Regions from separate parts of the Homo sapiens genome. Here region 2 is linked to region 1. The links come from fine-mapping of genetic effects on gene expression. A gene starts in region 1. The other region holds a variant in brackets. All regions are shown on one strand. Distances are from middle to middle.

Evidence for each region. PIP is the estimated chance that this variant, and not a neighbour inherited with it, causes the effect.
Region 2: its variant is the best candidate, but not a certain one, in a credible set for the expression of LY6S-AS1 in naive CD8 T cells (Schmiedel 2018, PIP 0.58).

What each region holds. Positions count from the first base shown.
Region 1 is chr8:143,037,401-143,041,775 of GRCh38, forward strand. LY6S-AS1 (LY6S antisense RNA 1) reads left to right here and starts at 1,809. Exons shown (of 6, transcript NR_149322.1): 1 at 1,809-2,169. LY6S (lymphocyte antigen 6 family member S) reads right to left here. Exons shown (of 4, transcript NM_001406478.1): 4 at 3,439-4,375. RefSeq lists enhancers at 1,481-2,032, 4,054-4,375.
Region 2 is chr8:142,175,297-142,179,671 of GRCh38, forward strand. MIR4472-1 (microRNA 4472-1) reads left to right here and starts at 1,043; the gene lies at 1,043-1,122. The variant C/G (reference allele first, on the strand shown) is at 2,563.

The sequences.
Region 1 (4,375 bases):
CACATTTGGCTCAGAATAAACCTCTTCAAATATTTTAGAGTTTGGCTTTCTTTCATCAACACATCCCATCCTGTAAAACGCAGAGTAAGCCGGAGAGAATGGCTCACACCTGTAATCTCAACACTTTGGGAGACCAAGATGGGAGGATCATTTGAGGCCAGGAGTTCAAGAGACCAGCTTGGCCAACAAAGCAAGACCTCATCTCTAAAAAAAAAATAAGTAAATAAAAACAAATGTGAGTGACTTCACTCTTCTCTCCCAGAGCCTCCAGTTGTCACTTTTCTGAGTTTCTTCAGGGTCTCTTGAACTGTACTCAGGGTGTCAAGAGGTACAGTTGGGAAGGATGGGGGCCTCTAATGAGGGGGTTAAGAGCATCATTCTGGAGGAGACATGAGGGAGGCAGCAGAGAGGGGCTGTGGTGTGGCCTTCACACACTGCAACTCCTGGAGGTCGGGCAGGGGCAGGATGTCCAGACAGTGGACGCATGAGTGGGGAAGCCTTCAGCCACCCTGACTCCACCTAGGAGGTGCCCCAAGGCAGAACCAGCAGCTGAGCCTGGCCAGCCCCGGCAGCGATGAGAGACAGTAGGTTTTGGGGTGACCAACAGGGAGCCCCAGCAGGAGCCCAGCAGGAGAGAGAAGCTGGATATTGATCCTGCTGGCCCCTCCTGCAGTCCGCAGGACTGTCCACAGCCCTCGCTCCTCTTAAGCAGCTCACCTGCCTTGGTGGCCCCTCCCCTCCTGGCCCCTCCTTTTGGGCCTGGGTTGGGGGTGGCAGGGGTCCTGTCCCTGCACCCGGAGTGGAGTGGGATATGGCACTGGAATGTTTCTAGGCAGCCCACTCCTGTAAGAGGGCCTGGGGCTGGGCCCAGTAGTTCACACCTGTAATCGCAGCACTTTGGGAGGCTGAGGCAGGAGGATCGCTTGAGCCTCGGAGTTCGAGAGCAGCCTGGGCAACATAGAGACCCCACTTCTACTTGAGAGACACACAGAGAGAGAGAGAGGGAGGGAGGGAGAGAGGGAGGGAGGGAGAGAGAGAGGGAGGGAGGGAGAGAGAGAGGGAGAGAGGGAGGGAGGGAGAGAGAGAGAGAGAGAGAGAGAGAGAGAGAGAGAGAGAGAGAGAGAGAGAGAGAGAGAGAGAGAGAGAGAGAGAGAGGGAGAGAGAGAGAGAGGGAGGGAGGGAGGGAGGGAGAGAGAGAGGCTTCTGGTAAATGCTCCTATTTTGCAAACTCTCTTCCTATTTTGTGATTAGGATGCTCCATCAGTTTCTGCCACCAGCTTGCTGGAGACGCTGCGTGTCCCTGACTCCTCTCAAAGGGTGAAAAGCTCAGTCGCACCCGAGACCTGCTCCTCAGGCAGAGGATGAACTGAGTCCCCGCCCCACCGCCCGTCTGGCCTCTGTGAGAGTGGCGTGCAGGCTGACCCTGGAAGCAGAGGGACATTCGAACGGGCCGGCGGCCTTCTCCCCGCTAGGCTGGGCTCCGGGGTGGGCGGAGAGTGGCCGCCACAGGCCATCAGCGTCCGGGGTTCTGGAAGCAGGGAGGGCAGAGGCTGGCCCAGCCTATGGGAGACCCTGCAGAGGCGTGGCCTCCAGGCTAATCCTACCCCAGCTGCCCCAGGGCGGGATTTCTTTTCTTTTTTCCTTTAATCTCTTTATCTACAGGCGCCGAGGCTTAATGAGCTCCAGATGTCTCAACATACCAGGAGAGGTTTAGGATCCCCTGCCAAATACAAGGGAGATAAGAACGCACCAGACTTGCACAAACCAGAGCTGGTGACCCCCAGTTCCCTTTAAATCAGCGACATGTCATTACAAGGCGGAAGTCCTGCCCGAGAGGACAGTCCCCAGGCCTTGCTAAGCATGCGTGGTATCAAGAGGTGCATTGAGGCGCTCCTGCAGCCTCCTCCCGGCACGGGACTCCTCACAACCCCCAGCCTCAGCTTCCCTGACAGGGCAGGGGCTCACTCTTCTCCACTCCGGGCCAGGAACGCAGCCTGCTTGCCTTTTGTCCAATTGGGTGCTCTTTCTTTGCGACTGATACAAAGTGGGAACAAACTCCGCTTCCGGTGATGCCCGGGCCCCAGGAGGCTGGGGGAGAAGTGCACGCTGCCCAGCCTTCAACCTGAACTGCCCCCAGCACTTCCGAGCCCCGACCCCTGCAGCTGTGAGGTGAGGTGGGGAGGGGGCGGCCTGCGGGGAGGGGGCTGCCTGCGGGGAGGGGGCTGCCTGCAGGGCGGGCCGTGTGGGTCCCCCGAGCGTGGGGGACCAGTGACGTCAGGCAACATTTCTCCAAAGGCTCCCTCACCTTGTCCTTTGGCATCTGGGGTGCTCAGAGGAAGGGGGAAGCCGGGAGGGTGTGGAGAGGGTCACTGGAGAGGGGAAAGGCCAGAGTGATCCCCTTGGGGACGAGGCAGAGGAAAAGCTGTGGAGACCTAAAGAGAAGAGGTGGGGTGCGCCTGGGCCTCTCAAGTTTGTTTCCCAGAACCAGGGAAGGTTACAGTGGAAGGGAGGACCCTGTGGGGAAGAAGCTTCCAGAGACCTTCTGGAGAGGTGAGCCAAAGGCGAGCCATGGCCAGAAACCCCAGGCCTGCTGCAGTGGAGAGTCAGTGCTGCAGGAGGCTTGGGAATCAGGGCTGCCCTCCTTGGGCTGAACCCTCTATCTAGGGGACAATGGCCCTGGGCAAAAGCACTGCTTTCTGGGCCCCCTGGAGGGTAGGGCATGACACTGTGGTGCTAGAGGCAGGGGGGACATGAGGAGGTAGACGAATGTCCTGAGTCACCAGGTACAACCACTGCACCCCATTGTGACTGCCCCTGTGTCCGACACAGATTTGGGGGGTCTGGAATGTCCCTTGAGCTCCTTAGGCACTCATGAATTTCTAGTTGAGCAAATAAAATGTCCAAGATGCCCAGTTTGATCTGAATCTCAGATAAACAACAAATAGTCATTTTTACCAATGTTTGGGACATACTTATGCTAAAAATTGTTTATCTGAAATTCATATTTAATTGGGCATCTTACCCCATTGACCCTAATTAGCAAATCACATCCAGGAGTACAGGGCATGGCTGGGTGGTGGCTGTCACACTGTGCAGTCAGAGGGACCAGGACGTCTTGGATGCAGGCGTCTGGCCAGCGTGGAAGGCCAGGACCTGGTCACGAGATGTGGCTCCCGGCATGGCAGGTCAAAGACTGCTGGTCGTCTGAGCCCAGCCCTGACTCCAGGCTGAGATGGCCATTCACCCAGACCTTGAGCCCTGCCCTGACTCCAGGCTGAGACGGCCGTCCACCCAGACCATTCTGAGCCCTGCCCTGACCCCAGGCTGAGATGGTCATCTATCGGGGGAAATTCACCCCCGATATTTCATGTAGGTTCTTTTCTATTTTCCCTAAGTGTCGGCCAGTCTGAGAAATAAAGGGACAGAGTACAAAAGAGAGAAATTTCAAAGCTGGGCGTCCGGGGGAGACATCACATGTCGGCAGGTTCCGTGATGCCCCCTGAGCCGTAAAACCAGCAAATTTTTATTAGTGATTTTCAGAAGGGGAGGGAGTGTACAAATAGGATGTGGGTCACAGAGATCACATGCTTCACAAGGTAATAAGATATCACAAGGCAAACGGAGGCAGGGCGAGATCACAGGACCACGGGACCGGGGCGAAATTAAAATTGCTAATGAAGTTTTGGGCACACATTGTCATTGATAACATCTTATCAGGAGACAGGGTTTGAGAGCAGACAACCAGTCTGACCAAAATTTATTAGGCGGGAATTTCCTCATCCTAATAAGCCTGGGAGCACTGCGGGAGACTGGGGCTTATTTCATCCCTTATCTACAACTGTAAAAGGCAGCCGTCCCCAAAGCAGACATTTCAGAGGCCTCCCCTTAGGGATACATTCTCTTTCTCAGGGATGTTCCTTGCTGAGAAAAAGAATTCAGCGATATTTCTCCTATTTGCTTTTGAAAGAAGAGAAATATGGCTCTGTTTCACCTGGCTCACAGGCAACCAGAGTTTAAGGTGATCTCTCTTGTTCCCTGAACGTTGCTGTTACCCTGTTCTTTTTTCAAGGTACCCAGATTTCATATTGTTCAAACACACATGCTCTGCAAACAATTTGTGCAGTTAACACAATCATCACAGGGTCCTGAGGCAATATACATCCTCCTCAGCTTACGAAGATGATGGGATTAAAAGATTAAAGACAGGCATAGGAAATCACAAGGGTATTGATTGGGGAAGTGATAAGTGTCCATGAAATCTTCACAATTTATGTTCAGAGATTGCAGTAAAGACAGGCATAAGAAATTATAAAAGTATTAATTTGGGGAACTAATAAATGTCCATGAAATCTTCACAATTTATGTTCTTCTTCCA
Region 2 (4,375 bases), 860 kb before region 1:
TGTCCTTTTGCATCATGCCTGGAGAAGCTGAGTCTCAGGACAGAGAGGGATTCTTGACATGACCTGGCCCAGAGTGCCACCTGGGCAGTGCTTCTGTCCCCTCCAACAGCAGAGTGCCACCCAAGCAGTGCTTCTGTCCTCTCGGGCAGCAGAGTGCCACCCAGCACCTGCAGGGATGCCTGGACACAGGGAGCTCGCTCTGCAGGGCGAGGCTATGGGTGATCCCTGCACCTGCTCTGGCTCTGGTGCTTCCAGGGGCCCCTAGCTACTCCCATGTTACAGGCCCAGGCCCAGAGAGGCCAGGGGAGGTCCCCAGGATCTCACAGCCAGCTGGATAGAGTGGAACGTGTGTGGCCCCCGATTCCCGGCAGGCACTTGTCCTCCAGCCAGACCCACTGCCTGGCACTCACCGGATGCTCTTTCTCACCGAGGATCAACTCTCCCTCCCTGAAGGGCGCCGGACCCTGAGCCTGCCATCTGTGAAATGGGATAGCAGTGCCTGCGTCTCTGGTACTCACGGGACCCTCCATCCTTGGAGATTTAAGAGATGTGGTCAATATCACCCCACACAGTTCCTGGCACGTGGTTGACAGCCAGGGACCACCAGCTCCCGCACCCTCAGAACAGCCTTTCCGAAATCCCAAACCTTCCCTGAGAGCCGCCAAGAATACCCTACCCATCTCCCTGTGGGGAGCATTCAGCACTCCAGGAGCGTTTATGGAGCACCGACTGAATCCCAGAGTCTTCCCAGGCTGCAGGCCCAGCCCTTCCTGCACTGCGGCTCAGGAATTTGCAGAGTGTCAGGCGAGACGCCCCCGTTCCCAATCACTTCTCTCATTGTGGGGCTTCATTTCTGTTCCCTTTGGTTGGGGCTGCCTGCTCAGCTCCCAGCGTTCTATTTCGGCTCACAACATTTATAAAAATGCATCCGAAAACCCTGGCGCTGCAATCTGGAACTAACCTGCTTCAAGTCCTCAGACAAAAGCTCCTGAATACTAATTGAAAAGTGATTAATTACATTCACGGAGCCCCATCTCCTCACTGGCAGACCCTTGCTCTCTCACTCTCCCTAATGGGGCTGAAGACAGCTCAGGGGCAGGGTGGGGGGTGTTGTTTTTGTTTTTTTAAGGCTGAGTTGGTTTAAATCTCATTTAATTTTCACAAGGGAGAGCCTTGAGCCTCAACTCAGATCTTAACTCGGGTCAGATCTGTCCCTGATCTGGACAAATCCCGGCCCTTCTCGGATTCTCATTTCCTTCTTTGGAAGGTGGGGCTGCGGCACCTGGGGGATTTTGGAAGGCGACCGTCCAGAATTCCAATCCCGGCTGCTCATAATTGCTGCGGTGGAGCCCTGGTCAGGCCCCAACACGGGCTCCCTGCCCCCGTCCTTTTCCCCACTCCCTGCACACCCATAAACATTCTACCCACAGTCCCTGTGGTCTTCCAGGACTCTGCTCAGAGCTCACCTCCTCCAGGCAGCCTGCCGGGCCCTCTTCTCTGCTCCACGAACACCCTAGAACCCTGGGCTCCTCCCTGACTTCTATCCCCACAGGGTGTTATGGCAGCCGGTCATCCACTCTAGACCATGAGCCCCTCGAGATTGAGGCTAGCATCCAGCCACCCCCAAACCACAAAACTCACCACAGCCCCTGAACGAGCTGGAGGAAGACCGCAAGCTCCACACCTGAGCCCCGGGACAGAGCCAGACTCCAACGATGAACCAGAGCAGAAGAACCTTGCACACAGTAGGCATTCAGTCAGTGACCTTCCACCCTGCCCAGCCTCTGAGTGTCCTTGGACCAGTACCTGAAGCCCCTCTGGGCCTCCATTTTCTCCCCTGTAAGATGGGTTGACTAGGAGCCACGCCCAAGACTGAGGGATTAATGAGACGATGCGTGCCAAACACAGGGCAGCATGCAGTAAGCGCTAAATAGATGTCCACATCCCTTTCCCGGCCTGCCCCTTCCCATTCCCGGCCCCCAGGGTTTCCGGAGCTGGGTCTCCATGCCCCTCCAAGGCTGCCCCTGGGCCTGGGGAGAACAGGCTGCTGCAGGTAGGGGGCCCGACCCTCTGACCCTGAAGAGACAGCCGCTGTCACTGGAGGGACAGGGGCCCGGGGCGCTGGCGACCGCTCCGGAGCAGGGTGGGAGGGGCTCCAGAATTCAGGTCCGCCAAGCAGAGGCCATGGCCAAAGGCTGCGCACAGGTGGGCCCCTCTAGCAGGGCTGCCTAGAGAGACCCCAAGGGGGGTCTGGAGGGGTCAGGGAGGGGCAAGTGATGGGCAGGGTCTGAGGGGACTGCGTGGCCAGCCCCCTCCATCAGACCCCCACTTCCGCTCCAGAGCTCAGAGGGGCAGCTCAGCCGCAGACCGGAGGCTGGGGTCACGGTGGCACCGAGAGGAAGCAGAGGCAGCTGAGGGCCCCGCCTGCCGGCGCCAGCCCTCCCTTCGCTGTGGGGTCGGTCCCTCCTCGCTGCACCCTTAATTACAAGTGTCCTGAAATCCTGCCAGAACACACTCTCTGAGACGGTTTCCCTCATTTAAATTCTTCCCTGACATTTGTAC[C/G]ACAGTGAACAAGAACGAAACTCCTGGGAGGAGGCACGGCCTGGCGCTGCGGAGTCTCCCTGTTGGAGGAGGAAGGAGGAGGAGGAAGGCAGGACCCTGGGCCTGGCCTCCAGAGAGGAGGTGCACGCAGAGAAGACAGCGTGGGCAGCCACCACGACCACCGCTCCGGGCCCAGGTCTCCCTCGTCCTTCCAACAGCCCCGTTTTACAGGGAGGGAAACTGAGGCTGAAATGGGAGAAGTGACTGGAAAGGCACGTGGTGGGGAGCCTCTCAATTTGTTCTGGATAAAAACATTCTCTCACAGGGTCCGCAATTCTACAGGAGCACTCACGGCTGATTCAATAGGAGAATTCCCCTTGGCCAAGGAACAGCCACTCCCAAAGTGTGAAGGCCTGGGCGGCCGCTCACCTGAGGGCCCTGAGCTGGCCGGGCCAGTGCATCCCTTCATCTGAGTACCCCCCAGCACCAGCCAGTTCATCCCCTCACCTGAGTCCCACTGTGGCCAGTGCATCTCCTCACCTGGGCACCCCACCACCAGCCAGTGCATCCCCTCACCTGGGCACCCCCCCACCAGCCAGTGTATCCCCTCACCTGAGTCCCCCCCAGCCCCGCGGCCATTGCATCCAGACTCTACTTCCATGCAGACAGCAGTTGACACTGCACCCCTTTACAGAGGAAAGAACCAGACTTCATGTCCAAGGGTGGGATGATCCCACCCCAGCTCTGCCACTTGCCAGCCGTGAGGCCTTGGGGCAATTCTCACTCCCAAGCCTCAGTTTCCCCACTTGTTAAAGCAGGATGAGCAGCTCTGAGGTGCTGAGTTGCTCTGGAAGCAACTCCACTGGGCCAGGTAGAGAAAACCCTGCACAGGCCTCCTGCAGACGGGCGGCCACCTGTTCTATGTGGGACCCGCATGCCATGGGGGCCTTCAGGAGCTGTCCTCACCAAGAGGTGTGTCTGAGGGTGAAGCTTCGGGTACTGAAGCAGATCCCGGTGAGGCCTCAGCCAGCAGCACACAGCTGGTGCCAGCGACGCCTCCTGCCTCAACCCACCACAACCCACCATGGCAATGAGCTTGTGTCTCTCATGGGCGTCTTTGGGTTTGGGGTTCTGTGTAAGACAAGGCAACAAGTGTCGCCAGAAGCAGGAGCATTCCCCGGGATCAGCAACCCGGGGAAGGTACGAGACCTTGCCAGACACCAGGGGAGGGAGGGGTCTCTGCCTTTGCCTCCTGCTAGGGGCCAGGCCTGGGTCTTGAGGAGGAGACAGAAGCCTGGGGAGGCTCCTCTGTGGGTCCACACTCCACTTGGGGCAGGCCTGGGGGTTGGCCGCAGCTCACCAGCCAGGCCACAGGCCCACGGCCCCGAGCCCAAGCTGCGATGGAAAAGCACGAGGTGACCCCCGAGCCTCCGGCCCCGGACTTGCTCCCAGAGGGGCTGCCTCTGTGGCTTGGGGGTGAGGCCTGGCCCTGGGGTTTGTCAAAGCTGCAGGAACCAGAACCTTCCCCCGGAATCAGGAGCACCCACCACCTCAGCTCTCAAGAATCCCAGGATCCTTCATTGTGAGCTGGGCCCCCGTGCTTTGTCCTGGGCATGGAAGGCCTGGAGTGGGGCCGGGGGACGGGCATTCAACACATGTCCCTGGGTCCCTGGGAACACTGGCACTGGCTACCTGAGGGCCTCACTGGGAGATACAGACCCGGCCCTGGTCCATGTTCAGTGCGGCCATTTCCCTGCTGTCGCCCCTGAGGCCCCCATGCTCAGCCTGGATTCATTGGTGCTTTGAGTAGTAACAGAAGGTTCCGGACCCTCTC